Regions from separate parts of the Homo sapiens genome. Here region 2 is linked to region 1. The links come from fine-mapping of genetic effects on plasma protein levels. Region 1 holds a variant in brackets. A gene starts in the other region. All regions are shown on one strand. Distances are between the middles of the regions.

Evidence for each region. A credible set is the group of variants that fine-mapping cannot tell apart. PIP is the chance, under the fine-mapping model, that this variant and not a neighbour inherited with it causes the effect. Protein levels are from antibody-based Olink assays in UK Biobank. Linkage for the fine-mapping came from a reference panel and not from the study's own genotypes, which makes the PIPs less certain.
Region 2: it holds the start of CHL1, and the variant in region 1 is the best candidate, but not a certain one, in a credible set for the plasma level of the CHL1 protein (UK Biobank, PIP 0.89).

Annotation. Positions count from the first base shown.
Region 1 is chr3:98,778,179-98,786,178 of GRCh38, reverse strand. ST3GAL6 (ST3 beta-galactoside alpha-2,3-sialyltransferase 6) reads right to left here. Exons shown (of 10, transcript NM_001323368.2): 6 at 1,139-1,234. It also overlaps the pseudogene PDLIM1P4. Among named protein-coding and RNA genes, the nearest start is that of ST3GAL6, 19 kb to the right of the region's middle. The variant GAAAA/A (reference allele first, on the strand shown) is at 3,069.
Region 2 is chr3:192,287-200,814 of GRCh38, reverse strand. CHL1 (cell adhesion molecule L1 like) reads right to left here and starts at 4,052. Exons shown (of 28, transcript NM_006614.4): 1 at 3,752-4,052. It overlaps CHL1-AS2 (CHL1 antisense RNA 2), which reads left to right and starts at 3,474. Exons shown (of 4, transcript NR_144487.1): 1 at 3,474-3,848; 2 at 4,307-4,359; 3 at 4,775-4,819; 4 at 4,901-5,057.

The DNA.
Region 1 (8,000 bases):
TAGGCCACACACCATCAAGATTTTAACCTGTTTATCCAACTGCCTACTCGACAAACCCACTGCAAATCTAACAAGCATCTCAAATCTAACATGTTCATATCATGGTTTTCCTCTAAACCTGCTCCTATACCAGTCTTCCCCAACTTAATAAATGATACCACTCTCCAGCCAATCTCCTAAGCTGAAAACAGAGTAGGAGGCATCCTTGATTTCTTTATTCTCATTACTCTTCACATCTAATACGGCAACAAATCCCGATAACTCTATGTCTAAAACACATCTTCAGTCAGTCCACATATCTCTTCCTCTCCTACAACAATCCTGTCCCAAGCCACCATCATATTATACCCGAATACAGCAACCTAATTGGCCTCTTCATTTCCACCCTTGTCCCCCACATTCCATTGTCCATGCCACAGCCAGAATATTTAAGACATAACCAGACTGCTTTGTTCTCTTGCTTAAAACCCTTAAAAAGCTTCCTGTTGCACTTAAAATCCAAGTTTCTAATCCTAGCTTACAAAGTCCTATGCAGCCTGATCTTTGCTCACCGCTTCAGCTTCCAATTCCACCACTCTCCCCCTGCCTGCTACTTTCCAGCTTCACTGGGTTTCTTTGCTACTCCTCTCAAACTCAGGATCATCTCCTCCTGAGGCCCTGCAGCAAACATCCTTTCTGCCTGGACTGCTCTACCATAATCTTCATATGGCTGTTGCTGTGTGGTCACTTGGGCCCTGCTTAGATGTCTCTTTCTCAAAGTGGTCAATCATTACAAAGGAGCCATTCAAAGATTCTCTGTTATATCCTTTTTAAATTATGTATGGCATTTATTATTTTTATATATTTAATTACTCATTTTCTTCCCTCCACAGGGAGCACAAACATTGTTCTTATCCATTGCTATCTCTCCTGTGGCTAGAAGCATGCTAGCACACTAAGGAGACTTAACAAATACTTGCTAAATGAGTAACCTGAAATCTAGGTCTAACTCTAGCCAACAACCAAGAGAGAAGGTTGTGCAATAAAAAAAAAACCAAATGGAAACATCTCCCCTTCCTGTCAAAACACAGCTGTATTAAGGCAAGAAACCATATTCTTTTGAAACAATTCTAGGGTAGCAAATAGAAAATATATTTACCTTATTATTACATCATAGGAGTCGATTTTTTCTCCTAATGTCTTATTCTTCAAAACTCCTCCATTACCAACCACCACACACTTTTTACAGGGTATGCTGTTGGACAGATGGACAAGTGAGAGATTGAGCCATCTTTTACAAAACTGATTCCAAGAATCCATGCATACTGTCAGAAACCCAGTGCCAAATTCCACTTGTTGCGCAAGTAGAAAAAGAACCAACTGCGACTTACAAGTCTAGAGCTGTATTAAAAAGATACAAGATTCAATGAGTAACATTCTATAGGAAGAGCATATCATTGTCAGCAACTATTATCAGCCCATACATGTTCTCTCATTTGATTCTCATACCCACCTATTGAGATAAGTAAGCCTGATATTCCCAGTATACAAATGAAGAAAGAGGTTCAGAAATCTATTATGTAACATTTTAAAGTCATACTCCAAAGTGGAACTAGCATGTGGATCCAGAACTTGAGACTGTGAAACACACCTCCATATAGGACTCTGCATTTGTGTTTTACATTATGCAGGTCTACATTCTTTGCCAGCATTACCCACTCCTCGAAGATTCTACCTCTGGCTCTCTGCTGCACAAGTGTGGAGATGGACAGTTTGGAATCTGGTGAGAAAAGTGCAGTTTTCTGTACCCTGCCCATGCTCACTTCAATTTCTCAAACATGGACTGGTCCTTGGAGCTTAACCAATACAAACTAAAAGTTCACGCGGTGTTCCTGGCAAACAGCTTTAAAGTAGAACACAAAGGGGAACTTCGTGTTGCTGGTCCATCTCTCTCCCAGCTCTTACCCTCACCCAGGCAGGCCTGGAGAAATGACAAAATAGACTGTGTCCTTGCCCGCTAGGGAACAAAACCACAGAAGGGAAAGTTGTTGAGGCTATCCTTCCAGGGCCCTCATGGCATGGAAAGTCTAAAGAGAACACTGTTTCCCTAAGACCCGTGAAATCAGCAGACCAGATGAACTCAAGACCTTAAGGATTTTAGGAAATCAATGAGTAGCAAAACTGTACAAACACTGTAGAACCCAGAAACATGGAGAATGTGAGAATTCGGAAACTGTTTAAAAGAGCCAAGCATTGGCTTTGTCAGGTAAACAGGAGATGATGTACACACTCCTATATTCATTAAATTTACCTTTTTTGAGTAGTACAGTTCATCTGATTGTAAGGTTTAAAATTTAAAAAATACTTTTAACATATTTTAATTGGAAGCTCTATGCTCTCAAATATTAAAGAGTCATGCCTAAATCAGTGTCTACCTAATCAGTCAAGAAAAATAAGTACCAGTGGCACAGGTTGGTAAGGACTTGGGGGCGGGGAGGGCTGTCCAGCAGATGCTCCTTCAGTGTGTGCCTGAAACCTCGCCTTGTGGACACATCTCATGTCACAGTAGGTTCCAGAAGGGTCTGTTTGTTCATTTAAATTTTCTTTGCATTTTTTTTATTTCTTTTTTCTGGGAGTCTATAGATGGAGCAAAAATGAAATCAATGTCAGACATATTATATTTGATTTGGTTCAAATGTGGCTGATGTCCATTTGCAGCAGAGAAGAACTGAGGGGAGGAAGGTACACAGTGTTGCCGGCAAGGGGACACTGAACAAAAACAGTTTGCCATTCATTGTAAAAGTGGGCGGGCACCACACAGTCAGTGTGAGTCAGTTAACCAAGACAAGGGACTCAAGGTTCAATGAGCAGGGATAAAACCAAGGTAAGCGGGTTGTGGGGTGGGGGAATAAGTACAGAACTTTCAAGAGACAAGGCCAGAACATTTAGAGAACTAGCTGCAGCAGAGGCTGGCTGGAGAACGGTGGTCAGTGCAGGTCTGCTGGATCACTTGGGGAACATGATGACCACATCGTACCCTCAAGTGGTGTGACTTGCTCCTGGGCATGCTCTTCACAGTAGATTTGATG[GAAAA/A]AAAAAAAAAAAAAGCCCTTCTCTTTCGGGTGAGTGTCACAATCAGTGCACACGTAACATTCAGGGAGGGGATGATGGTCCCCGCAGCTTTACAAACATGCCTACAATGCCAGGACCACATTTGTCACACATGGGCACCTTCTGAGCATTTCCAATTGATGCAGCCACTGAGTAATAGACTGAGCTGAGTAACACTTCTGAATCCTGAGGGTTGTTGAGATCCCCTTTTATCTCAGACTCCAGGATTTCCTGCAAAATCAGGAAAGAGGTAGACTGTTTCAGGGGTTCATTCAACTCCTGTTTCTCCTGAAGCATCTTGTAAACTTCAGATTCTTTGTTGATTATGAGACCACTTGGAGGCTGAACATGATCTATGGACACGCCATTGGCCTCCTCCCTGCTGGCAGCAGTTTTTGAAATACCAGCAATATGGTATCTCAAAGTATTGTTGAAGTTGGAGATGTTTTCAGAAGAGAGGCCAGCTGGGTTACTGTACTGGTTTGGATGACCCCAGGGACAGTGCTGGAAGCAGGAGAGGCAGTAAAGAGCATGGTACTTGGATTGTAGGCACTTCCTACGTGCAGGACCTCCTGGGGTTCAGAGTGTAAATTCATCTTGTATGGATGACACTTCCTTTTCTCCATCACCAGAAGAGACTAGATTTTATATTCAGATCTGGCTATTGTGAGAGTCATGGTACAGCCTTTTGACTTTTTTCTGAGCTTCCAAGGGCATCATATTGCTGATATTTTCCCTATCAATGGCTGTAATTACATCTTGCATACATCAATTAGCTATAGCAGCCTTGCTTCTGAAAGTGACTGGGAAAACAGCTGAGAAGCTACTGGAAGTCCTTGCTGTCCAGCAGGCGGAAGCCTCATGGTCCTGGGCTCTCTGTTTCTAAATAAGAAAGTAACATAACTCTAGATGCTTTTACAAGCAAGTTTGATTTCAATCCCTATTCTAGAAAGCCAACTTTATCAAAGGCTCTCTGCTGTGGGGCCATGTAGTATGGCTGAGATGGGAGCTGCTGAATATTCAAAACCCTTTCCTCTCAGGGTATTATTGCCATTATCCTCCCCAAATCATCCCATGAATATGCTATAGGAGGGGGCGATTCTCACACTCCCAGCTTGCTTGCCCTTTCCATAACCTCAGGGTCAGTTTAATTCAGATCAGAGGCTACACCTCCTAAAGCTGGCTCCATCTCCACTAGGAATGTTAAGCAAGGCTGGGCACTGGGGAAGGCATGGCTAAGACAAGATTGAAATAACAGCTGTTCCCATGAGATAACCTGCATAGGGGTAGAGGGGGAATATCTATAGATGGTATCTAGTCTAATCCTCTCCATTCAATGAAGGCTGTAGGCCAATCCTCTGTCAAGAAAAGGGGCTGCCTCGCCCTGAGCCCAGGTGCCTCAGGGGCTCCTGCATCCATCCTGGCCTGGAGTTCCCAGTCTGACACTGGGCTACCTGACTCCACCTACATGGAACATGCAGGGGCAAAGGCCAACAAGCCACCAGCATACCACCAGAGCCCCTGTCCTCTACAAAAGACTCCTGAACAACAAGCCAAATATCTGAAGTTGACCCCAGAAAGGTTACTCAGCTCAGTCTATTTTTTTTTTTTTTTATACTTTAAGTTCTGGGATACATGTGCAGAACGTGCAGGTTTGTTACATAAGTATACAAGTGCCGTGGTGGTTTGCTGCACCCATCAACACATCATCTACATTAGGTATTTCTCCTAATGCTATCCCTCCCCTAGCCCCCAACCCTGCGACAGGCCCCAGTGTGTGATGTTCCCCTTCCTGTGTCCACGTGTTCTCATTGTTCACCTCCCACTTATGAGTGAGAACATGCAGTGTTTGGTTTTCTGTTCCTGTGTTAGTTTGCTGAGAATGATAGTTTCCAGCTTCATCCATGTCCCTGCAAAGGACATGAACTCATTCTTTTTTATGGCTGCATAGTATTCCATGGTGTCTATGTGTCACATTTTCTTTATTCAATCTATCATTGATGGGCATTTGGGTTGGTTCCAAGTCTTTGCTATTGTGAACAGTGCTGCAATAAACATACATGTGCATGTAGTATAAAGTCTATATAGTATAATGTCTATATAGTATAATGATTTATAATCTTTTGGGTATATACCCAGTAATGGGATTGACTGAGCTCAGTCTTAGACGTGGTCAGTTATATAACATTGCTCAACAATGAACTGATAGCTTAGACCTTAGTGTTCACAGAAGTTTCCACTCTATCACACTGAGTTACAGATGGTCATCAAGCCCTAGATAATGCGTGGCCCAAAGAGTATCATGGTAAGAGTAGCTACCATCTGTCATATACATGTGCCATTATCACTGGTCATCACTCAGACTCAAGGTCCTGGACCTCCACCCACATACCCTATAAGCCAAGAAAAAAGAGGGGTCTAGGGTTTCAGGCAGATCTCTTCTGCAGGGCAATTCCTCATACTCAGCCTCTCCTACTTATGGTCCCAGCAGTTCAAGGACTTTTAAAAAACAGGAAGAAATAACATAGACATTGCCTCATTTAGAACGCCCATTCCAAAGATTCTTTGCAGCTCTACGTCACCATATTTTTAGGAGTTTCATTCTACTTTTTTTTCCTGTCAGCTTATAGGGGACAAACAGAAAGAGAGAAGGGCCTTTACTATAGGAAATCATGCCAATGCTTTTGAAAGGAAACCTTATCAATGAAAGTCCACTTTTCCTCCTGGTAAAGGATATTGCAAAGATTTACGCATTTTTCTGAAAATCACATAGAAACTCTTTTGAGGGCATCCCTAGGACTACTCTTTGGCAATAACACTTTATCTACAGCTAGTATTCATAGTACCACCATGGCTCTGGGAAGTATGGAATGGTACAGATAAGCTGTCTGAATCGCACTCCTCGTTACTCATTGCTTCCCTCACTCTCTAGCAAGTACCCCATACTCTGAAAGGACTGATTCATTCTCTCCTTGACTTCATCCATTTGGCTTGTGATTCTGGCTTCCTCTGCCTTTTTATGTGTGGAACAATGACTTTCAGTGTCCTTTGGGTGACTGTAAAACTTCACATATTTAATTAACATAACTTTCATGTAGAAATAGCTGCAGTAAATTGTGAGTCCCTAGAGGAAAGAATAGTATCATTTATATCTCTGTATCCTCCCATCTACAACACTTCCTGATTCACAGGCTGTGCATTTTAGAATTCAGTTTGGTTGTTACATTAAGTATATGGAGGTTATTTCCCTACTTTGTGTTTGGAGAAGGAATTACTTTTTACTCCTCCAACCACCCTGGAAACACGGAGGAAAATGCGTATGCTCTAAACTGCTTACCCAGAAAACAAAATAATTGTTTTGGAACCTGTTAATGGAAATCTGGAAAGCTGCTAAAGCAGTGGTAGTAAGAGATTACACTTCCCCCAGGTGAAAGCTGTGTTTCTCATAAAGTCAGGCAAAAGCTGGAAGAGTCATTACCTTATGCAGAGGGAAACATTAAACACAATCAATATAGAGCAAGCAAACTTGAGTTGCCCATTTCAAATGATCTATGATGTGTTTTATTTTACAAATGCTTTTTGACATGCATTTTCCCTTCAATACCATCATGTACATTAAAATACATGACTCTACCTTCAGTGTAACAATCTATGGCAAATCATACCACTCACATTCCCAACACCCATTACCCCATGTGCCTTGCTAGCAGATCCCTGCTTTCCTAAGCCTATAATAGTGAGCTCATTGTCTCTGCCAATGTTTCATCTAGACATAGCCATGTGACCCATCCCTGGGCAATAAGATATTAGGGAAGTCTATTAGATGCTTTTGGAAGAGATTTTGCTGCTGCCAAAAGAATCATGTGAACAGGATACTTCATTACTCACTTCTTCCTTTCTGCTTAGACATTGACACGTGATAACAAAAAGTTAGAGCAGCTACACATCAGAGAAAAAGACAGCCACAGAAAAACTACCCTGGAGCCTTGACATCACTGAGCCACTAACTCAATCCCCCAACCAGGGCCACTCCAAACATATGTGCAAGTTGTACACAGTCCAATGTCCGGGAGCACCATTCAGATAACTATATGAATGAATCGGTACTCCCTGGAGTTGTGCAATCCACAGTCTGTACAGCCATAAGCAGCCCCACACTGCAAGCTGGAACCACAAATATGCAGACCTGAATCCACATGTCTACGCAATACAGGAGATAATAAATGTCCACGTAGTTTAAATCACTCCTAGTGAAGACTATTACTTGCAGCCAGGAGATCCTCAAACTACACAAGGAACTGTAGTTGGAGACCTGGTTGCTAGTTCTGGCTCCTCCGCTTAGCACCTCTTAGGACCTTGGTGTAGTAATCTGACCTCTCTGATCTCGGTTTGCTCTTTTGTGAAGTAAGGGAATCACTTAGGTCTTGTATGTTACTCTCTGATGGAAGAGACCATTTCCTTTGGCAAAAGTACTGAGACTTCTATACCTTTACCCAACATCTGACCACAGCCGATGCTAGAAAGCAGGCAGGGGCTGCTTCTGCATATTCACCACAAATGATTCACTCTGTTGATGTAGAATCGCAACTTCCCCTCATCCTCAAGCTCTCCTTGCTAAAAATCCTGCAATGTAAAGAAACTCTGCAAAACAGCAGAATGTCTAAAGTAGGGAGGCAGATATTGATATTCCGTTTAGAGTTAGGACTCTTTTTCAATAAATACACCACTAATGTCTAATTCTTTTTTAAGTTTTCTAAAGACATGCTCCTGGCCTGGCTGGTAGTCAATCTAACCCAGCTTTGCTGATGCTGACATAATGGATGCTGCTTGAGAGAGCAACCAGGCAGCTTTTACAAATCCTTGTCCATTTAGCAGGCAACTGACTTGACACAGGTGCTTTAGTCAGGTAA
Region 2 (8,528 bases), 99 Mb after region 1:
TGAGAATTGTTTCCAGTCTCCCCCAAGGGGTGAGAGGAAAGGCATGTGATCACCAAAATATAAGAGATTTCACTTTAATAGCAGAGAAAAGGCTCAATGCCAATTCTACTTGTAGATAGACATAAAATGATAGCGAATAATGTAATCTTTCTTTGAAAGAATGCTTAGCACAATATTTTTCCAGGAACAAACAGAAAGAATATTATGCTTTCACTCATTAGCTGTGTTAACTTAGCATATTGTATGTAAATGACCATAATAATTGCATTCTCTTCCGACTGAATTAGTCAGAATGAAACTGTAATCAAAATGTTCATAATTGAAAATATAGTATTCTCAATCTTGGTTTGAAAAAATAACAAGGAACGTTGACTGAATCAGATAATATAGTACATCACTGAAAACAACCTCAGTACAGAGACAAGTTCATTCTCTTGATTATACCTTTGCATTTCAATTAGGTCCCCAAATTCAGAACTCAACACCTCCCAATCTGTCATGTTTTCCTACTCTTACCATTTGTCTCTGGACTAACTTAAGCATTCCAAGTGCATTGCTGCTAGATTTTTAGGGAAAATAGAAAATGGTGAAAAGCTAATTTTATTGTTTCTAAAATACATTAGACTCTATTGCACTGTTGGCTGTCATAAATTAAAGGGCAAAATAATTTCCAATAAATGAAACATTTAATGCCAAAGCTCCTGGGAAACAATATGTAAATGATCACATGAATTTCAGAGAAGCTGTCACACTAATTCCTCAAGGTACCTTTTAAAGATGACATATTCACAGTGAGGATGAGAGGGTTGTCTTGCAAAGCCAAACACTGCTACCTGAAGTAATACTCTCAGTATTTCCTGACAATCATTCCTTCAAATCTGACACCAGTAGTTCCCCAACTATTACTTAATTTTCTTTTATCGGTTAAAAATACAAGAATCTTAAATCAGTCTTGATCGTTACCCTTATTTTTCTATAAAAGCGAATCAGGCTAAATTATTTCAACAAAGCAATTTTGGGGCAAATAACCTCCTATCTTCAAAGATTTCAGAAGCAACTATAAAATCAGGTTTCTATCTAGCAAATGTTTTTCTGGGTGAGCTCTATTTTGTAAAGGTCACTAAGGATCTTTGTGATGGTGACATCTGTCAGGCTTTACTTGCCTCAAGTTCACCAAGAAATGCCTATATTTTAATAATCAAATGATTTTAAAAATTTATTTAAAACCAATTCATGTAATGAGATGAATTAACTTAAATGCAATAAGTATAGTATGTGCAAAATCAACTCCTCTTAGACCTACAGCTAGGCCCACGAAGTGTACAGTGTACTTATCAGCAGATAGGTTGGAGGACCTATATAACCATGAGGAATCAATAAATATCTATAGCCGTTTCTTTGAAGAAAAGGATCCGTAAGTCTACATGCAACAGATAACAATCTGGGAAACATATATTCATCATCATAGTCTTGTGCTGCAGTGAAGTGGGTACAAACATACCCTGAAAGAGATTTTAATGAGTTGCCATAGCCAGTACTCACACCCATCCAGTAATAACTATTTGTCTCCATTGATTTGCTCACAATATTCAGGAGCTTGCAAGGAATGATTATACACTACGTTCTGCCATTACTAAAGGTAAATCCACTGCAGCACTTAAGGCCATAAAATGGAAAGCCAGGGTATACATAGGCTCTGTAACCACGTTAAATTATGAAAGCCAAATGGTGGTCCCTCACAAAGAGACTGAAATTAAGACAAACCCAACTGCAACATCTGCAGGTGAAAGAGAAAACACAAAGATTTACAAAAGAAAAACTCTGGGATAAACTTTTTATTTTCTTGTCACCAAAAGTTTCCCCAAAGAGCTTCCTAAGCTTCTCTCTCCATCAATATACTGAAAAGCCAACTTCATCGGCAGTTGATCAGTTTCTCTCTTCCAATCTGCTGCAAGGCAGAGCTTCGTAGGAGTTGGACTGTGCAGTACAAATATTCATATTTTAATTAAGATTATTCTCCAAAATTAGAAAACGCAGAATTTTTACTTCAATGAAAATGCAGAGAAATGAAAATGCACCATATGTAATTAAACTGAGGATTAACTAACAGTAATGGCATCAACGACAATAACTTTTGAGTGCTTATTATGCATCAAATATGCATATGGTGTTAAATTTAAAAATCTATGGTGTTAAATTACTTGTATCATCTCATTCCAGTCTTGCAACAACCCAGTATAGAGGGTATCGATAATCTCCGTATTATTGAGAAAGGGAAACTGAGGCACGTAGTTAAATGCCTAGTCCAGAGTGACGCATCACAGTGATGGTGGAGCTGGAATTCGAAGCCACGTGGGCGTCCCGGGAGCCTCCGCCTAGAGCGAGCCCGGGGGGCCCACCAGTTACCATCGCCACGCGCACGCGCAAATCTCCCCGCGCACGGCGCGTTCCCGCGGGAGCGCGCCCTCGCGCACGCGCCTGGCAGGGCAGCCGCTCGCCGGCCCTGGGGCTGCTCCGCGGCTCCCACGAGCGGGACTGGACGCCGGCGCCCTTCGAGGAGGGGCTGAACCTGGGGCGCCCTCTCTGCCGGGCCACCCAGCCCTGCCGACGCACACCTGCCCTCCGCCGCCGGCCTCCCACCCCTTCCCCGCCCGCCTTCCCGCCCAGCAGCCCAAACGCCCACCCTGCGCTCCACCCTGCTGGCCGTCTGGGGCGGGGGTACCTGGGCCCGCGCGGCTGCTGCTCCTCCGGCCCGTGGTTTTTCGCAGGAGTTCCCCGGCCCTGCCCCTGGCTGAGACACTGTGGCTCGCAGCGAGCCCGGAGAGTGGGAACGGAGGGGCTGGCTTTCCCCAGCCTCCCGGCTCCAATCCCTGCTCCCCAAATTAATCACTTTCTCCGTGCTGCCTCCCCACGCACACTCACACTCCAAAAAAAAAAAAAAAGCGAGAGAAAGAGAGAGGCACAAAGAGGAAGAAGGGACCATCCGCGACCGGCATCTCCAGCCCCCCGGGCTCCGCTACCAGGAGCCATGGCAACCACGGCCCCCGGCGCGCCCTCTCGCCCCTCGGCGGTCTGGGGAGGTGGAGCTCTAGCCCCTCTCTGGGTTTTCGTGCTCCCCAACCCCACAACCCCACGGTCCATGGATTCCCCGCTCCAGGCTGGCGGCATTTTCGGAACCCCCCCCGGGCTGGGATCTAGAATCCTCTCCTGAGAGGAGGAGCCACACAGGGGCAGTGGACTGGGGGGGTCTGAGCCCCACACACCAGGCGGTGTCCAGGGGAGCGAGGGGCGCGGTGGGAGACAGAGGCCGGGACTGACCCCCAGACCAGCTAGACCTCGGAGCCCCACCCGAGAGAGGGCGGAGATCTACGGGGGGGTCTGGAATCCTCCTCAGAGAGCAGCGAGGGATGGGGTGGCGGAGGCTGGAAGCGGGAGGGCCAACCTACCGGCGGCCGGCGGGCGTGAGTGGGACCCGGCGGATTCGGGCGCCCGGTGTGCTCCGTCGACTGACCCCGAGCTGTCCGAATCCGGCCTCGGCCACCGGGGGCGGGGCGTGAAAAGGGGGCGTCTCCTCCCGGGTGCAGGCTGAGGGGCCCGGACCACCCCCACTGCGGACGAGGGACCCTGACCGCGCCCCGCTTCCTTTCCATAACGAGTGGACCCCTCCCGGAGCACCTTCAGCCCTTCCTCCACGGGAGACCCCCCCAGCGCCGGCACGAGAGATGCCAGCGGACCCCCACCCCTGACACACCTGCGCCGCCTCCGAAACGCGATCTGTCCGGCGCCTCCCCTCGGGCGCCTTCTCCCCCGAGCCGGCCGGGAGCCGGGACGGGGGCGCGCAGGGTCCGGTAAGCTCTGGGCGGATCCAGGGAGGGTCTCGCCGGCCGCTGCCCGCTGGTCCGCACCCGGGGCTGTCCGCGGAGGTCCCGCCCGTCCCCTCCCGCCGCTGGCTCTCTGGCCGCGGGAAGGCTGGAGCCGTTCTGGCTGGCACCGGGGTCTACGCCCTCCTGCCGGAGGCTGGCTCTCGCCTCTGCTCCCTTCCTGGGTTCTGCGCCGCCACCCCTCACCCACGCCGCTTATCTTCCCTCCCTTTGCACGCTCCCGCGGGACAGGGAGAGTTACAGGCTTCAGACTTTATCTCGTTGTGGAAAGCAAGAGACCAAGCCAAAAACTTTGGTCGTGCTTTTCAACATCTCCGGTCAAAAGAGGTAGGATCCCTGCTCGTTTATCTGCAAAAGCGACATTTAAAAGAAACGCCCCCCACCCCCTCCCCGATGGTTTCACTCGGTTCATGTTGCACACACAGGTCGCCAATCTGCTTTTCTCCCATTGCTGCGTCTTAGAGGGGTGTGGTGCCATGTACGTATTAAAAATTGTCTTCTTGCTTTCCTTCATTTAAGGGCGTGGTGGGGCTTGCTATTGAATTTACAAAATATGCTACGACCATCCGCTGTCAAATTGTGCATGCTTAAATTTACAGATCTTCTACTATCTCACAATTTTTGCCCTAATACAGAGTCTATAATGTTACCACATCGTTTCGTAACGTTTTTCCTACTTATCCTTTATTAATTCACTATTGGAGAGGAAAGCCTTCTGTACTCATATTCAGTGCAAAAAGCCAGTTCTGATGCCTTATGAATCCACAAACACATAAAAATATTTTAGGATTCCAAAATTCATATGGAAAAATTATAATTTTTAGCACTACATTTGATTTATATGCCACTTTATTTTTTTTCCATTATGGTGGTATTTTCCAAAATTTTTACAGGATACCACTTTTGAAAATCCTGTTGAATGCAAGTCCTCTTTGTTGGTAAGAGAATTATTGACTTCTAATTTTTACTCCACTAAGGCTGTGAGATTGACCTTACAGCCTCGTTTTGTTTTCATCTAGCTCATTGAACAATGAGGATATTTAGCTCCCCTCAGAGCTACCCTCAGAGTTGGATGAGCTATCCTCAGAGTTGGATGCCACCACCGGGAGCAGCAAAAGCGAAGGCAACTCATGATTCTGCCTCAGAAGCAATCGAATAAAATATTTTGAAAATGAATGAATGGACTTTTAAATTTTAATCATCGCTAACCTTGGGGCCTCGATTCTGTCAATTTGTGTGTGGGCACAGTTCTTACCAACTGCCTTGGCAAATTGTGAATGCAAGTGAGGGCAGGATTTGTCCTAAGTTTAAATTGTACTGCTGGAGTGATTTCTTTTGCCTGAGGCATCATTATTCACGTGGCATGTTTTCTAAAGTAGAAACAAAGATAGAATATTAAATAAAATTCCAACAGGGGGAAATACTCTGCCTGTAGAAAAACATTTCCAAGGTCAAGGAACCACAAGAGAACAACAAAGCGAAGTTGGTCTCAGGAGTTTACCATCTTCTGGGTGAACAAACATCAGCTGAGCAAGGGACTCGGAACTCCATTTTGGCCAGATGAACAGAGTACTCTTAAATATATAGCTCCTTCTTTCTTGGTGATTTGTTTCTTGACAATAGAATCATTATTTACAAAACAAATATTTATTGAGCAGCTACTATTTAATCAATCACTGGTCTGGGTGCTGGGCTCAGTAGGAAACTCAATAGGCATGGCCAGTAGCTTTTTAAAAAATCAAATACCCTCCAAATATATTAGACAGTACCAAGCCACAATACCCAAAACAAGAAGATGGCCAGTTCTTAACTATGAGTTTTTAACTGAAAGGGAGATAACATTCTTCTAAGCTTCTGGCATTGCATATAAATGAAGAAATAATAGCCACACATAGCTTACTAGGGACAGTAAGGAAGTCAGCTTGTATGCAATACACGTTATCCCAGGCAACCAAATTTTACGAAAGAAAAGAGGGAGATAGGGAAAGTCTAGGGAAGGAAAAAAGGGAGGAAGGAAGGAAGGAAGGGAGGAAGGATGGAAAGAAAGAAGGCCAGCAAATGATAAACCAAGAAAGGAAATCGTACTTTTTAAGGCAATGCAAAAGGAAGACAGATGACCTAAATTTCTACATCCAAGAAACACCTCATAGCTGTCGCTTCCAAGGATGAGTTCATATTTTTGATACATTATCAAAAGCAGGCAACACATCTAGGCTTGCCTGGCCCCAGGAATTCACAACTCTACAGCCTGAGCTTCCAGTAAGGCTGGAACCAGAAGACAGTCCCCAGCCAGAGCGGATGCTTGCTAGAGATACCTTCTGCTGCTGCTTTGGAACCCTCCCCTGGCTCCCATTCTACTGTCTGACACTTGGTTCAGACCCATTTCCCATTCAACATACAATCCTAATCTATCAGGCATCCCACAGTTGCACCTAGGTGCTAGAGAAAGAAGATATACTTATGAGTCACATGGAAATGTGATTGCCGTAGCTTTGAAAGGTGTGAATTTTCTCTCTGATAATTGAGGACGGCCGTTTCGAATGAAAATACTAATATCAAGCCACAAAAATAGGGGAGAAAAGGGCCCTATCATGAATAGAAGCAGAAGGTGAGAGAGAGGCCAGTCATCTGGAAAAAGATAAAAGCTATTAAAAGCTGGGGCATTTTTCAGCTTTTCCTGCTGATTTACTGCCTCCCTCCCTCCCTCCTGAACCATCATTTGGTATCATTCCCAGAGCTAGGGCCATTGAAGTAGTATTGCCTTTTGGCAAATACAAGTAGCTAGTGATGTGGCATCATTCCTAGAAAAATTGTTTAGCAGAAGAGCTGGAGTTTTGAAAATGGCATTTCAGTCTAGCAGTTCCAAATAGTCACAGATCAACAGGGGCTTTCCGGCCAACTGCTGTAATAAAAAATAAAAATAAAAAATAAAAAGCAGGAAGCAGGATGTTCCACTGAGGAATAGATCCTTCAAAAGCAACCTTGAAAGTACAAAGCAGCCACTTCAGCTTTGATATTAATAAAGCTAAAAAGACCATATTAATTCTGCAGAGTTATCCTGACAGAGTCACTACTCCTTTAACTTGTCCTTTAATACAAGAACAAAAGGATATGTATTAAAAATCAAAGGGCAATAATTCTGGAACAACTAAAAAGGTAAAATCTTGTATTGCATGCCATGGATCATTAATATGTATAATTCAGCCCTGGGAGGTCATGAAATCAAATACTTTCACTGGATTTTTTAAAAAGGCTAAGAAACTTTGTGGCCATTAATAACATTATAATTATGTAGCCAAGATAATGTTAAGTGTTTTCAAATCTCATGCTTTAAGGCATCCATTGATTACTTGTGCAGGTCAGAAGGATTTCCCACCCTCCAATCAGCAATGCCTACAATGACTAGTTTTCTCTCCTATTGATGGTTTGCTCCAAAGTCCTATGCCCCCAAGTCTTATCTCAAAGGCCTGTGAACTGAGTTATAGGATGAATTCCTATTTGTTGGAGAAAGTCCTCATATGTCTGGAGGATGAGAATTTCTTCTAAACCTCTCTATTTCCAACATGGTACGAAATCTTTTCAGTCTGGAAGGGACCTCAGAAAACATAATCTTCCATAGCTTCTTTTTATATCTGAAAAGAGTAAGGTTCAGAAATTTTATCAGAGTTGTACAACTGGTTAATGGCCGAGAATATATTGAAAAAAATCTCCAAGTTTTTAATCTTGTATCATTTTACAGGATGAAAAGTCACTGCCATCTTTGAAGATAATTTTATTTATTATTATTCTGTTGCAGCAAACAAGACAAATGTCGAATAGTGGGATAGCGAGTAATACCAGGAGCATAAAGGCTGATCTTTTTACAGAGACACATAGCCAAAATGAAGTTTCTCCTTTTCTTTTTTTTTCCAGTTGTTTTTGAAAGTATGTTTTCCACTCAATGTAACAGAAACATGTTAGAGAAAAAGGAAAGACCAACAAGAGCTTGTGGCAGCCACAGGTTGTTCTCCACTTCCTCTGCCCACTAATCTGTTTTTTGTTGTTTTTGTTGTTGTTGTATGTGACGGAGTCTGGCCCTGTCGCCCAGGCTGGAGTGCGGTGGCGCGACCTCGGCTCCCCGCAAGCTCCGCCCCCCGGGTTCCCGCCATTCTCCCGCCTCGGCCCCGGGAGTAGCTGGGACCACAGGCGCCCGCCAACCCGCCCGGCTCATTTCTTCTTGTATTTTTGGTAGAGACTGATTTTCACCATGTGAGCCAGCATGGTCTCCTGACCTCGTGATCCGCCCGCTTCGGCCTCCCAGAGTGCTGGGGTTACAGGCGAGAGCCAATGGCGCCCGGCCTAGTTCTTTTTCTCCTTCTGGACACAGGGCCGCTAACCTAAAGACTAAATTTTCTAGTCACTCTTTTGACTTAGTTTGGTTCTAGGACTAGGTTCTCACCAAAGAGACATGAGGAAAAATGCTGTTGGCAACTCTCAGCTCATCTACTTAAAGATCATCTAGATTCACTTCTCCTTTTCCTTTTGACTAACCCACAGTAGTAAAAGGCTCATGTTGAGGATGACAAAGAAACCCCACTCTGGCCTGAATTCCTACATGACTCTGAGGATCAGAACCTACTTAATACCATAAAAAATTGAATGTCCCCT